Linked DNA regions of Homo sapiens. The protein of the gene in region 4 purifies or fractionates together with the protein of the main gene of each other region. This does not show direct contact. Each region holds a gene or a part of one and is shown on either strand. Other genes may lie near its edges.

Region 1 (3,500 bases), on a different chromosome or scaffold from region 4:
GATGGGGGAGGCAGAGAGGCCAAGTCGCCTGCCTAAGGCTAGTCAGACGGGGTATTCAGGCCTTGGCCTCCCCCTCTGCCTGCAGTGCTGCGTTACATAGCCTCATCTGTGTCAGCTGCCGAATGACCCACAGCTGCACTAAGCACTGAGCGATATCCCTTTTTCTTTTTGAGACAGGATCTTGAAGGTCTGTGGCCCAGGCTGAAATGCTGTGGCATGATCATGGCTCACTGAAGCCTCAACTTCCTGGGCTCAAATGATCCTCCCACTTCAGCCTTCCAAGTAGCTGGGACCACCAGCACGCACCACTGTGGGCGGCAAGTCACCCAGGTGCCGAGGCAAGAGACCGAGGGCACGAGCTGTTCCAGTGTAATAAAATATATAAAATAAGAATAGTTATACTAGATCTAGATCACAGACATGATTATATATGAATATCATTAATTAATTTGTAGCAATTACTCTTTATTCCAATATTATAATAATCCTCGCTCTACAATCATAACCTAGGAAAAACCAGGTCATACAGAGACAGGAGCTGGGGGGACATGGTGAGAAGTGACCAGAAGACAAGAGTGTGAGCCTTTTGTTATGCCCAGACAGGGCCACCAGAGGGCTCCTTGGTCTAGTGGTAACGCCAGCGTCTGGTAGGACGCCCGTTGCCAAGCAGACCATGGTCTAGCAGTAGCGTCAGTGTCAAGGAAAAACACCCACTACTTAGCAGACCAGGAAAGGGAGTCTCCCTTTCCCCAGGGGAGTTTAGAGAAAACTCTGCTCCTCCACCTCTTGTGGAGGGCCTGACATCAGTCAGGCTTGCCCGCAGTTATCCAGAGGCCTAATCGTCTCCCTGTGATGCTGTGCTTCAGTGGTCACGCTCCTAGTCCACCTTCATGTTCCATCCTGTACACCTGGCTCTGCCTTTTAGATAGCAGTAGCAAATTAGTGAAAGTACTAAAAGTCTCTGATATGCTGAAATAACGGCGTAAGCTGTCTCTCTGTCTCCTCTCTCTCTGCCTTGGCTGCCAGGCAGGGAAGGGCCCCCTGTCCAGTGGACACATGACCCACATGACCTCACCTATCATTGGAGATGGCTCACACTCCTAACCCTGCCCCTTTGTCTTGTATCCAATAAATATCAGTGCAGCCTGGCATTTGGGGCCACTACCGGTCTCCACGGCTTGGTGGTAGTGGTCCCCCGGGCCCAGCTGTCTTTTATCTCTTTGCCTTGTGTCTTTATTTCTACGCTCTCTCATCTCCGCACATGGGGAGAAAACCCACCGACCCTGTGGGGCTGGACCCTACACACCACCACACCCACCTAATTTTGAAATTTTTTGTAGAGACACGGTTTTGCCATGTTGCCCAGGCTGGTCTCGAACTCTCAGGCTCAAGTTATTCTCCCACTTCACCCTCCCAAAGCGCTGGGATTACAGCAGCCATGAACCACTGTGCCGGCCATTTTCTTCCATTTTTAGAGAAGGGTCTCACTCTGTAGCCCAGGAAGGAGCGCAGTGGCTATTCGTGGATGTGATCATAGCAAACTACAGTCCTAACCTCCCAGGCCCAAGTGATCCTCGGACCTCACTGAGTAGCTGGAACCACAGATCCCACCTATGGGACCATATATTCCCACATCACCATATCTGGCTTTTTTTTACTCTAACCTACTTGAGTATCAGAGGGCCCGACCCCCTCATGCCTCTGGTTTTCCAGATGTTTCCTACTGCTTTCATTTTTATTCATTTATTTATTTTGAGATGGATTCTCACTCTTGTCGCCCAGGCTGGAGTGCAGTGGCACAATTTTGGCTCACTACAACCTCTACCTCCCAGGTTCAAGTGATTCTCCTGCCCCAGCCTCCCCAAGTAGCTGGCACTACAGGCACCCATCACCACGCCTAGCTAATTTTTGTATTTTTAGTAGAGATGGGCTTTCATCATGTTGGCCAGGCTGGTCTTGAACTCCTGACCTCAAGTGATCCACCTGCCTCGGCCTCCAAAGTGCCGGGATTACAGGCGTGAATCACTACACTTGGCCTCATTTTTATTCTTTAGATGAACCTTTGAATAATCTGCTCATATTCCCAAAAGATCTTTTGTGTTTTGACTTGGTGTTGACTGATTTTACAGAAGTTAACGTATTTACACTATTGAAATTTTCTAGTCTAAAACAAGACTTATTTCATCTTCCTCAAAGTATAGTTTCTTCATTTAGAAATATTAGGCCAGACGCAGTGGCTCACGCCTGTAATCCCAGCACCTTGGGAGGCCGATGCGGGCGGATCACGAGGTCAGGAAATTAAGACCATTCTGGTTAACATAGTGAAACCCCATCTCTACTTAAAAAAAAAAAAAATACAAAAAATTAGCCAGGCGTGGTGGCAGGCACCTGTAGTCCCAGCTATGCGGGAGGCTGAGACAGGAGAATGGCATGAACCCGGGAGGCGGAGCTTGCAGTGAGCAGAGATGCACCATTGCAGTCCAGCCTGGGTGGCGACAGAGCAAGACTCCATCTCAAAAAAAAAAAGAAATATTAATCTTGGGCCAGGTGCGGTGGCTCACGCCTGTAATCCCAGCACCTTGGGAGGCTGAAGCAGGCAGATTGCTTGGCCTCTGGAGTTCGAGACCAGCCTGGGCAACATGACAAAACCGCATCTCTACAAAAACTACAAAAAATAGCTGGGGGTGGTGGCGTGCACTGTGGCCCCAGCTACTCAGGGAGCTGAGGTGGGAGAATCGTTTGAGCCCAGAACGTCAAGAGTGCAATGAGCCAAGATGGTGCCACTGCACTCCAGCCTGGGTGAGACCATCTCAGAAACAAAACAGAAAGAATAAATGTGACTCTTCTCAAGGTTCTTGGTACATATTGTGTGTACTTCTATTGCTGCACAACAAATCACCACCAACTTCAGGGCTGAAACCAGCACATCCACTTATCATCTTACTGCATTCGTCGTCAGGGGTGCAGGTGCAGCGTGGCTGGGACGCAGGCTGAATTCCAGGGGCCGGCTGCACTGCATTCTCATGAGGAGCTGGAGGACCCTCTTCTAAGCCCATTCTGGTTGGAGGCAGAATTTATTCCCGGTTCAAGGAATGAAGTTCCCGTTTTCTCGCTGCCCTAAAAAGCCTCTGACACTTTTACTGTCTGGCTTCCCTGATCAGGTCGGGCCCTAAAGAGCCTCTGACACTTTTACTGTCTGGCTTCCCTGATCAGGTCGGGCCCTAAAGAGCCTCTGACACTTTTACTGTCTGGCTTCCCTGATCAGGTCGGGCCCTAAAGAGCCTCTGACACTTTTACTGTCTGGCTTCCCTGATCAGGTCGGGCCCATCCAGGATCATCTCGCATTTTGATGACGTCAAACTCAATGGATGAGTGAGCTAATCGCAGGAGAGACACACCTCCCTCTTCCTCATTCCACCCACACTCGAGGGGAGGGTTACACATGGCTGTTTCCCAGGGGCAGGGATCGTGTGGGCTGTCTTGAGTCCTGCCACCTTGTT
Region 2 (3,500 bases), on a different chromosome or scaffold from region 4:
GTGACATATTTTTGAAATGTTTAATGGATTGAATACTCAAAAGCCAAATCTGTCTACTTTCCAAAGTATCACCTTCTTCGAACAACAGAAGAGTCAGAATAGCAGAGTGCTGAAGAATTTAATAAAGCAAAGAAAGTAAATCACTCTTTTTTTTTTTTTTTGAGATGGAGTCTCACTCTGTCACCCCAGCTGGAGTGCAGTGGCGCGATCTCGGCTCACTGCAACCTCCGCCCCTCCAGGTTTAAGCAATTCTCTGCCTCAGCCTCTGGAGTAGCTGGGATTACAGGCGCATGCCACCACGCCCGGCTAATTTTTTTTGTATTTTTAGTAGAGACGGGGTTTCACCATCTTGGCCAGGCTGGTCTTGAACTCCTGACCTCGTGATCCACCCGCCTCGGCTCCCAAAGTGCTGGGATTACAGGCGTAAGCCACCGTGCCCGGCCTAGTAAATCACTCTTTAGCTCTACAGGTGGCTTGTATACTGAGCTTGGGTTAGATTCATGCTGGTAATACTGGCTCCAGGTTTTGGGGTCCAGGATTCTTATATTTTAGGTTCGATTAACCTTCCCCAACTACAAATGTACCATTTTTGAAAGTGATTTCTCAAAAAGCTTTGTGCTTTTTTTTTTTTTTTTTTGAGGCAGGGTCTTGCTCTGTCGCCCAGGCTGGGGTACAGTGTTGTGATCACGGCTCACTACAGCCTCCACATCCCGGGCTCAAAACGATCCTCCTGCCTCAGCCCCCCAAGTAACTGGGATTATAGGCATTTGCCACCGTGCCCAGCTAATTTTTGTATTTTTAGTACAGACACGGTTTCAGCATGTTGGCCAGGCTGGTCTTGACCTCCTGACCTCAAGTGGTCTGCCAGCCTCAGCCTCCCAAAGTGCTGGGATTGGCCGGGCACGGTGGCTCATGCCTGTAATCCCAGCACTTTGGGAGGCCAAGGCAGGTGGATTACCTGAGGTCAGGAGTTTGAGACCAGCTTGACCAACATGGTAAAACCCCGTCTCTACTAAAAATACAAAAATTAGCCGGCTGTGATGGTGCGCACCTGTAATCCCAGCTACTTGGGAAGCTGAGGCAGGAGAACCGCTTGAACCCAGGAGGCGGAGGTTGCGGTGAGCCAAGACCGCACCATTGCACTCTAGCCTGGGCAACAAGAGCGAAGCTCTGTCTCAAAAAAAAAAAAAAGCTGGTATTATTGGGGTTTTTTGTTTATTTGTTTTTGTTTTTTTGAGATGGAGTTGTGCTCTTGTTGCCCAGGCTGGGCAACCTAGGTGGGTGGATCACCTGGTGGCGTAAGCCACCACACCCGGCAAAGCTAGTATTATTGTAACAATGGTTTGTAACTCTACTTTTTGTTTTCCACATGATTTAAGAGACCAATGCATTTAAAATAATTATTAGTTTACGTTTTGGGGGCACAAAATGAATAAAGACATAATTTTGTGATATCAAGAACTAGAAAGACCCGGGCGTGGTAGTTCACACCTGTAATCCCAGCACTTTGGGAGGCCGAGGCTGGTGGATCATCTGATGTCAGGAGTTCGAGACCAGGCTGGCCAACATGATGAGACCCCGCCTCTACTAAAAATACAAAAAATTAGCCAGGCATGGTGGCTGGCGCACCTGTAATCCCAGCTACTTGTGAGGCTGGGGCAGGAGAATCACTTGAACCCAGGAGGCAGAGGCTGCAGTGAGCCAAGATCGTGCCACTGCACTCCAGCCTGGGTGATAGAGTGAAACTCTGTCAATGGAAAAAAAAAAAAAAGAACTAAAATAGTTGAGAACAAGCTTTAAAGGAGCAGAATTTTAGTATGTTATTGAAGTTAAGCTGTATAAATTCAAATTAGGGTGTCATAACTGTAGGATGTTAAACATTGTCAACAAAAAGGGTCAAACTCTAAAATACTTAAAAAGATTTATTCTGAGCCAAATAAGTGACCAATGGCCTGTGACACAGCCCTCAGGAGATCTGCAAACATGTGCCCAAAGTGGTCACCCTATAACTTGGTTTTATACATTTTAGAGAGACATAAGACATCAATCAATACATATAATATGTACATTGGTTCAGACCAGAAACGTGGGACAACTGGAAGTGGGGATTTCCAGGTCACAGGCAGATTCAAAGATTTTGTGATTGGCAATTGGTTGAGTTATAATCCAAAGACCTGGGATCAATAGAAGGGAGTGTCTAGGTTATGATAAGAGATTGTGGAGACCAAGGTTTTATCATGCAGATGAAGCCTCTAGGCAGCAGGCTACAGAGAGAATAGATTGTAAATGTTTCTTACCAGATTTAAAGAGTCTGTTCTATCAGTCTTAAGATCTGTTTTAATGGTAATGCTGGTCAGCAGTGTCTGAATTCCAAAAGGGAGGAGGGAATAATGAGGCATGTCCAAACTTCTCCTTCCCTTCGTGACCTGAACTAGTTTTTTAGGATAACTTTGCAATGCCTTTGCCCGACAGGAGGGGTCCGTTCAGATGGTTGAGGGTTTATAATTTTATTTTATTTTTTTATTTTTTTATTTTTTTTTATTTTTTGAGATGGAGTCTCGCTCTGTCGCCCAGGTTAGAGTGCAGTGGCATGATCTCGGCTCACTGCAACCTCCACCTCCCAGGTTCAAGGAATTCTCCTGCCTCAGCCTCCCAAGTAGCTGGGACTACAGGTGCCTGCCCCCACGCCTGGCTGATTTTTTATTTTTAGTAGAGACGGGGTTTCACTATGTTGGCCAGGCTGGTCTCGAACTCCTGACCTTGTGATCCACCCGCCTCGGCCTCCCAAAGTGCTGGGATTACAGGTGTGAGCCACCGCGCCCGGCCTAGAATTTTATTTTTGATTTACTTTCTCCGCATTCTGGCCTAGATTTGTCAGAGGCAACATCAATGGTCACCAAACTTTTATTTTATCTCACTGTGTTGCTGGGGTGGCACAGCTGCCTTCCCTGGGTCCATCTTGTGCCTTGGTGGGACCCCTATGGTCAAGGGGCTTAGAGCCAAAAGACACATAGCGAATTTGAAAGTTCTAGGCCAGACCAGGCATGGTGGTTCACCCCTGTAATCTCAGCACTTTGGGAGGCCGAGACAGGTTGGTCACCTAAGATCAGCAGTTTGAGACCAGCCTGACCAACATGGTGAAACCCTGTCTCTACTAAAAATACGAATTAGGGCTGGGCACAGTGGCTCATGCCTATAATCCCAGCACTTTGGGAGGCCAAGGTGGGTGGATCATGAGGTAAGGAGTTCGAGACCAGCCTGGCCAATATGATGAAACCCCATCTCTACTAAAAAAATAAAATAAAAATTAGCCAGGCATGGTGGCACGCACCTGTAGTCCCATCTACTCTGGAGGCTGAGGCAGAAGAATCGCTTGAACTTGGGAGGCAGAGGTTGCAGTGAGCCGAGGTCGCACCACTGCACTCCAGCCTGGGCAACAGAGCAAGACTCCATCTCGGAAAAAAAAAAAAAAAAGAAAAAAAAATTAGCCAGGCATGGTG
Region 3 (3,500 bases), on a different chromosome or scaffold from region 4:
TGTATGGTTTATAAAACCCTTTCATATCCAAGGTTAGCAAGGCACATATTATTATAACCTTTTTGTTAATGATAATATAAAACCTCATTTTCCTATCTCGACTTTATTAGTTAAGTCTAAATAGACTTAACTTTTTCTTGTTGAATACCTCCTTTCTCCCCTCTCCTTGATTAATTTTACTGGCTAAAATAGGAAAAAGTTTTTACCTTTTAACCCACATAGTCATGAAACTGTGGAAACTGTCTAAATTTAATAGTCATTGATAGAGTCTAGCAGACTCTAGATTAGAGCTCAGGCTCTCTCCATACCCCACAAGGCTTTTCTTTTTTTTTTTTTTTCAGCTCCACCTTACAGGAGACTCTCCTGAAGTGAAACCCTGAGCATGCAAATGCTGGTTCTGCCTGGGAATGTAAGATATCTTGCTGCTATCATTTGCTGAAGTATCCCGTAGAAAACATGGAGTTACAGATAGAAAAAGTCAAGTTTAATTTAGGGACTTTACAGGCATTAATAGACAGCAAAAATGAAAAGCTGAAAAAGGGAGTAAGCGTCTATAAAGGAAGTTAATTTCACATGCAGTTCTTTAGAGACATTGCATATGCTAAGTAAGTGGAACAGGCAGCCTGTGGACAGCAGCTCTGGTAACTAGGGCAGGGACCAAGTCAGATGGCCGCTGGTGACCCTGCTCAGTAAGTTCCTAGAAAGACATCACTGGGCTGCTGGTCATTTCAAAGGAAACTTTATTAAGAAAATGATACATTTGGGGTTTTCTGGATGCAGTAGGTTCAAATGTCCTACCTAGCAGAGTGGCGAAGCCCACAGTGTGATTGGGGTGTCTACTTTGTAGAGCACAGTCAACTGAAATATGGGAGCAAAAGAACCTCTCTGTAGTGATCACAGAAGTACACTAGCAGAAGCTTTAATAGTATTTTGTATGCCTCAGGAGTCTCTATTTCATCATCTCAAAAGGCTCCAAAGCAGTGGAGACATTTTTAGGCTCACTGTGGACATGTGAACACGGTAAAGTAAGCGAGTCTCTCGTAAGGGAATGTGAAGGTTAGGTTACACTCTCTCAAGGTGAAATACTGGGATCACTCCCAGAATGCTCCAGAGAAATACAAATAAAGTTTCTGCCTTATTTCCCACTCACTATCCTGTGCTGAGAAGACTTCCTGTAACAGTAATTTTGCCGATCCTTAGCCCAAGGAGTCTAGACTCCATGGTCATCAGAGAGGAAAACTTCCCCCATGAAAAATACAGTTCAACTGAACTTTTCTGAGTCTGCCCCCTCATTCACACTTTGAACTTCTACTTAAGGAAACCTGATGGGAAGTACATCACTCTATTCCCAGCATCCAGTACAGCACCCACCACACAGGAAGCAAACAACACTGGTTTGTTGAACAGAACCCTAAGTACTAATGTAACCAGAGGCCCAGATGCCTTTAATATGCTCCGTTTCCTATTCCCCAACAAAAAGCACATCTTACTTCAGGAAACTGAATCAAGAAATTATACAGGTTCAAAGGAGCCTTAAAGATCATCTGTTCCAATCTCCTGAGTTTACAGATGAAGAAACCAGGGTCCATAAAATGAAGAGATTCCCCTAATGCCAGGACTCAAGTTTCCCAGGTTCAGAGCTAATACCAAACTGAAACACGCTTCAATTGAATTAGTTTTCATTAAGTTACATTAAAATTTTAGAGCTGTGGTTTATCATTATTTTGGAGTCATCTTCCTTTTCTGACACCATATTACTCTCCCTGGTGTTATTTCTTCCTCTAAGTAGTTAACTGTTTATAAATAAACATTAAAGTGCCCTAAGGGGATAGTTACTTTTTACAAATCTTTCTGTGAATCTTTCAAGGCAAAGAATGCTATCATAATATGAAAATGTATCATTCAATTTAACTATTCAAAAATTGGTGCTTTTGCATAGTGAGTTTTTCTTTCAGCAAGATACATTGCTGGAATTGTTTTCTTAAAAACCGGAATCGGTGGTCTTAAATGCAAATAGAAAATATTTCAAAACAAGCATAAATGGAGTAGTATTATCACATACTGAAATTCAGACCTACCACCAAAAAACTGAGCAGGACTAAGTTTGTCAAATTCAGTTGTTGAAAACAAAATATCTTTTAAGGCTTTTGTATCTTTATTGTGGCAAAGGAAAAAAAAAAAGCCCTATCTGGCACAAATTATTTTAAAAAGCCTTGCAGTTTTCCCACTGATTAGGAAATAAATGAATGCTAGAAGCTAGGAATGTTGTAAAATTTTGCAAAGCAAATAATAGAATTGAATTTTGTCTTCTTTTCTTTTTAGCATGCCAAGACAACTGTTGAAGTTTTTTTTAAAAATAATATTGCCCTTTCCACATTGAAGCCAAGCTATTTGTGAAGCCAATATGATACAGTATTTTAGATGCTCTGCACATTGATTTATTCTACTGCTTCTAGATTATTTTAAAGAAAGCACTTAGTTCCCAACCTCAGAGCCTATTTTCTACGACTTACTAACATAATCAATAATTTTTGATATAATCTCCAAAGAGATCATCAAGCCATCAATCTTTGAGACATTTATTTTTCAGAGGCATTCCTGGTGTGCCTCCCCATCCTGCCCTTCTGCTCTGTTAGGATGGATCTTACTGTGGGACTCAGAAGGGCATGCAGATTTTTCTTTCCATGGATGAATAAATACCAGAGACCTTGGGGGCAGGGAACAGCAATCACAGAGACTACCTCTCTGGGACAGCCTTGGCTCTGTAGGGTACCTATGCTTGCTTTGGTAACCTGATAAAGCTGTTTTCTGCCAACATTAATCTGGTCTGCTTAAATTGGTGAGACTTCTGAACACTACCAAAGGTATTTTAAAAATATATTTCATTTTCATTCCCTCTCTTCCTATCTTTTCTATTTTGAGGGGATTTTGTTAGCCAAATCGGGAGGGTACTCAAGAAATTTGCTATGTTAGGCTGTAAAGCAAAGAACAAAGTCAATATAGAGTCCCCTTGACAGGAGTCCTTGAGGAAGGTGACCCGTGTTCAAACTGCAAATGGAAGATCAGTCTCTGCTCTGGTGTATGCAGTGCCAGAGCCAATGCCAACACAAAGGCAGAGCATGCAATGGTTACAGAACATGCACCTTGGCACTTGACTGCCTGCATTTGAATCCTATCTATGCCATTTACTAGCTTTACAACCCCAGGCAAGCTATTGAACCTCTCTGCACCTCAGTTTATTCTTCTATAAAATGAGAACAATAATGCCTACCGAATAGGATTTGAGTTAATAAATGGAAAATACTTAAAACACTTCATGGCACATTGTATATAATTGTTAGCTATTATCATTAATAAAGGCAGATTTTAGAGAAGACAAAATCTGGGAATCACAAGACAGGGAGTAAAATTTACAACCTACTCTACGTTTTATTTTCCAGTAGAAAAAAACACCCATCAAAGGTAAAGGAAAGAATGTCCTTTCTTTACTAAAAGCAAAG
Region 4 (3,972 bases):
GGGCCATAGCTGGCCAGGATTGCCCCTCTCGCCTATTCCCAGAGGAGACCGTGGGGTTGAGAGCATGGTTTCTACAGCCAAATTTGGCTGAGTTCTTGGTCCCATAGACAGATCCCAGGGAAGCGGCCAGGCCCAGGGGAGGCCCCTGTGAGCTGTGGGACAGGCCTGAGACCTGCAGAGAAGTCCCCCAGCCTGCTTGCTATGGGGGTGGACACATGACAGTTACAGGGACTTCCCTCTGTAACCTATCCCACGTCCCAACCAGGCAGGCCTGAGTTTGAATCCTGGTTCCATCACTGACTGTGTGTCTCTGCGCCACTGGCAGCACCTCTAAGCAAGTGGGGATAACCACAGCGCCTCATTCCTGGCTGTTGCAGGATTTTAATGATAAATCATAAAGAGCGCTTAGCACAGATCAGTGCTCATGAAGGCTGCTGTCACTGCTGTTATTGGCCATTGTGCTCCCCCTCTGCACTCCTGCCACTTTTAACCTCTTCCCTCTTCCTTCTCTAGGCCTGAGCTCTTGCTGTATGCCCCAATCCTAGAACACCCTTTCCTACCCCTTCATCGGCCTGCCCCTGTTCTAAAGCATCCTTCAGAAATGAGACACAGAAACCCTGTCAGCACTCACCCTGGGTTGGAGGCTTTCTCTGGGCTCTGAGAATCCCTTTGTGCTTCCCCTCCCCCACCATCAGACCACAGCATCCTCATCTTCATCTCCCTGCCCTGACCCTGGGGCTGTACTGTCAGGTCCTGACTGGTGGAAGGGTGGGGACCTACAACCTGCTTCTCTGGGGTTCTCAGAGCCAACAGAAGGCAGCTGTTGGGTAGCTAAGGGTTGCTAACTGGAATGAATGGGTGAAAGGCAGTCAGGGAGTATCCCTGAGAGCCCCTTCAGGCCCTCCCATCCCAGGAAGCCTTAAAGGCCCACTCCTGGCTTCTCAGCCCAGCCTGGGGCACTGACAGGGGCCCACAGCTGGGAGCAGCAGGGACCCTGGAGAGGGCACAAGCCTGAGGCTAAGAAGACCGACGATTCAGGGCAACTGAGGCAGCCAAGTGTTGAGCAACCAGGCTGGATATCTGATGAGCCAGACAGAGGGTGGTCTCAGGCCAAGATGCAGAGGCCTCCGCAGAACAGGGTGGAGCAAGGGACCAACGGCAGCTGTGAGAACCAAACAGCAGGGAGTCAGGGGCCTAACTCCAATTCCCCATGCCCTTCCACTTGGCCACCAAAAGTCAGTACTCTCTCAGCCTCAGTTTCCCCGGATGTAAATGGTAGCTGCTGGAATACAAGTTGTTAGACAGGCTTCTTTACTGTAGGAAAAGCCCAGGCCAGAAAGGCACACGGTCGGGGGATGAAGCAGGTTCCTTGGAGCCTGGGCAAGGTTTCAGCCAAGAGGCCACCTCTGCTGCCACACAGCCCCCGCCCACCCCTACCAGCCTGATCCACTTTCTTGCCCAGGACACATTGCAGGAGCTGCACACCAGCTCCCTCCAGCTGACCCAAGAGTGCCCTCTCCCAACACCACGTCCTTTTGGGGGCTGGGGACTCTCAGAGGGCCCCTTCTTCACTCCTACTGCTCATCCGCTGGGTACCTCAGGCTCTCGGTTGGCGGTTTGTGGCCTCCTTTCTTCTCAGTCTCCTGCTCTTGGGTTAGATCTTAGGACAGGGGACAATTATTTCAAGGTGGGGGCAACACACACCGGGCAAGCCCAGGGCCAGCGCCCCGGCTTCCCAGCTGAGTAAATGTGGGCAGGTGATCCCATCTCTGATGCTCAGATCCTCATCAGGATAAAATGGGCAGAAAAACTACCTGCCTGAAGGGATTCTTGTGAAGGCAAAAAAGTGGATGTGGAGCGCATCGGCACAGAGGAAGACTCCATAAAAGATGGGTCTTTGTTACTCAGTCCTCATGCCGTCTTCCCAGCAGGAAGGAAGTTCCAGCACACCTTTCGTTGGAGGGGATATCCCACACTGAGCAGTTAAATCAGACCCGAACTCTGGGTTTTCCCGCATCCTTCTGTTTGGGGGCCTGGGCATTAAGTCAGTGGTTCTGGGCTTGGGGTGCCGCACCCAGCACGAATTCCACGTCGCTTCCCCCTGGCCTCGTTGGGGACCCCTGCACCTCTCCGGTTCCCGCAGAGGCGCTGCCCCCCGCCTACCCCGACCTGGCGGCCGCAGCGAGGGACGCAGCACACTCACCCCCTTGCGCTGGTTGCTGAGGCAGAAGGTGCAGATGGAGCGCGGCTGGCGGCCGCCGTCGGCGGCGGCGGGGACGGCGCCCTTGGCACTGCCCGCGGCACGGAAGCACGGCTGCCCGTCGTCGGCCGAGTCGCCCAGCAGCAGCACGTTGGCCAGGTGCGCGATGTAGCTGGACGCCAGGCGCACGGTCTCGATCTTGGACAGCTTGCGGTCCACCGGCTCGGTGGGGATGAGCGTGCGCAGCGCCGTGAAGGCCGTGTTCACGCTCTGAGTGCGGTCCCGCTCCCGCGCGTTGGCCGCCTGCCGCTGTCGCACCACCACCACGGGGCCCGCGCCGCCGCCGCCGCCCGCCCGCCGCCCGCCCCCGGGGCCCGGGCCGCGCCGCGCCGCCTCCGGGCCCTCGCAGCAGCCGAACGACTGGTCCGACGCGTCGCTCTCGCTGCGGTTCTCCTCGTCCTCGCTCAGCAGCCGCACGTCCGGGTACAGCACGTGCGCGCCGACGGGCCGCAGCAGCGCGAACGCCATGGGCGCCGGCCGCGTCCCTCCGTGCGCCGCGTCCCAGCGTCGGCCGCGCCCCGCCGTGCGCTCCCGCGCGCTCCCACGGCCCCGCCGGCCCCCGCCTTATAGGCGAGGGAGGGGCCAATGGCAAGGCCGCCCCGGCCGGGGGCGGAGGGCTCCGCCCGGCCAATGGGGAGGCGTCCGCCCGGCCAATGGGGAGGCGTCCGCCGCGCCCTGGCCAATGGCGACGCTCCCACCGCCTCCGTCCCCCAGGTTGAAAGCGGCCCGGGAGCCGGCGGCCCACCCCGAAGGCCCCCGTTCCCGGCTGGCTAGCCCGGCAGATGCTGGAGGTCTGGGAGGGTCGGCCGGGGTGGGCCCAGATCCGAACTTTTTGTCTCCAGCCTGGACCACCTGGGAGACGCGGGCAGATCCCTTTCTCCTCTCTGGGCCTCAGTTTCCTCGTTCGGAACGTTCAGATTGCAGAGAAACAGCTAGTGTCTGCCTGCCCTCCAATTCTAATCCTGTAGTTCTGCAGCTTTCACGTGCGTAAGAACTGGGGAAGGGGCTTTTGCTATTACAGAGTCCCAAATTGCTCCCATTCTGATTGAGCAGTTCTGGAACGGGCCCAGGAACCTACATTTTGTAACAAGCCATTGGTGATAGTGGTGGTGTCCGTGGAGAACACTTGGAGAAAAGCTATAATCTTTCCAAATGAGGATTCGACAGTGTCTTGTCCCTGAAGACAAACTTAAAAAGAAGAAGAAAAAAAAAAGCAAAACAAAACCACAATACACAAACACCAGTAGTTCGTTCGTTTTTTCAACAAATATTCGTTGGGTCCCTACTATGTGTCAGACATGGTTTTAGGTCTGAGGATACAGCCATTAACAAAATAAATTCTTCACCCTCACGGAACTGACGTTTTGGTTAAGGAACTACTGTGTACCAGACTCGGTGCTATATACTCTATTGCGCCCAGCTGAGGCTGCAGGATGGCAGCCCTGAGTTACAGGTCAGAGAGCTCCGGCCTTCAGTCGTACAGGTGGGAGTGGCGGCGCTAGCTCCAGCCTGTCCGGTTTCACTACCTCTTGGAATCCTACCACCACCATCCCATCACACACACACGGGCTATCTTTCCTCAATGCCTGCTTGCCTTCTAGAAACCTTAGATTGTTCAGCCTGACGTGTCCTCTTCAGAGAATTGCTGAGCCAAAGGTGGTTGCCGGGGTCTCGATCTCACTCGTGCCTGCTGCTCAGCTCTCTCCAGGCAC

Evidence for each region. Proteins that work in one complex are often made in the same cells at the same time.
Region 1: the proteins of TCF15 (region 4) and SPATA33 purify together in Homo sapiens (affinity purification with mass spectrometry; one large-scale study listed by BioGRID and IntAct). This does not show direct contact.
Region 2: the proteins of TCF15 (region 4) and AS3MT purify together in Homo sapiens (affinity purification with mass spectrometry; one large-scale study listed by BioGRID and IntAct). This does not show direct contact.
Region 3: the proteins of TCF15 (region 4) and FAT3 purify together in Homo sapiens (affinity purification with mass spectrometry; one large-scale study listed by BioGRID and IntAct). This does not show direct contact.

What each region holds. Positions count from the first base shown.
Region 1 is NC_000016.10:89,664,336-89,667,835, reverse strand, and holds part of SPATA33 (spermatogenesis-associated protein 33), read right to left. Parts: intron 1-3,500. UniProt on the Homo sapiens protein: Plays an important role in sperm motility and male fertility. Required for sperm midpiece flexibility and for the localization of sperm calcineurin to the mitochondria. Promotes mitophagy as well as acts as an autophagy mediator in male germline cells.
Region 2 is NC_000010.11:102,893,470-102,896,969, reverse strand, and holds part of AS3MT (arsenite methyltransferase), read right to left. Parts: intron 1-3,500. UniProt on the Homo sapiens protein: Catalyzes the transfer of a methyl group from AdoMet to trivalent arsenicals producing methylated and dimethylated arsenicals.
Region 3 is NC_000011.10:92,346,818-92,350,317, reverse strand, and holds part of FAT3 (protocadherin Fat 3 isoform 1 precursor), read right to left. Parts: intron 1-3,500.
Region 4 is NC_000020.11:607,510-611,481, forward strand, and holds the start of TCF15 (transcription factor 15), read right to left. Parts: upstream 2,801-3,972; 5' UTR 2,729-2,800; coding exon 2,204-2,728; intron 1-2,203. UniProt on the Homo sapiens protein: Early transcription factor that plays a key role in somitogenesis, paraxial mesoderm development and regulation of stem cell pluripotency. Essential for the mesenchymal to epithelial transition associated with somite formation.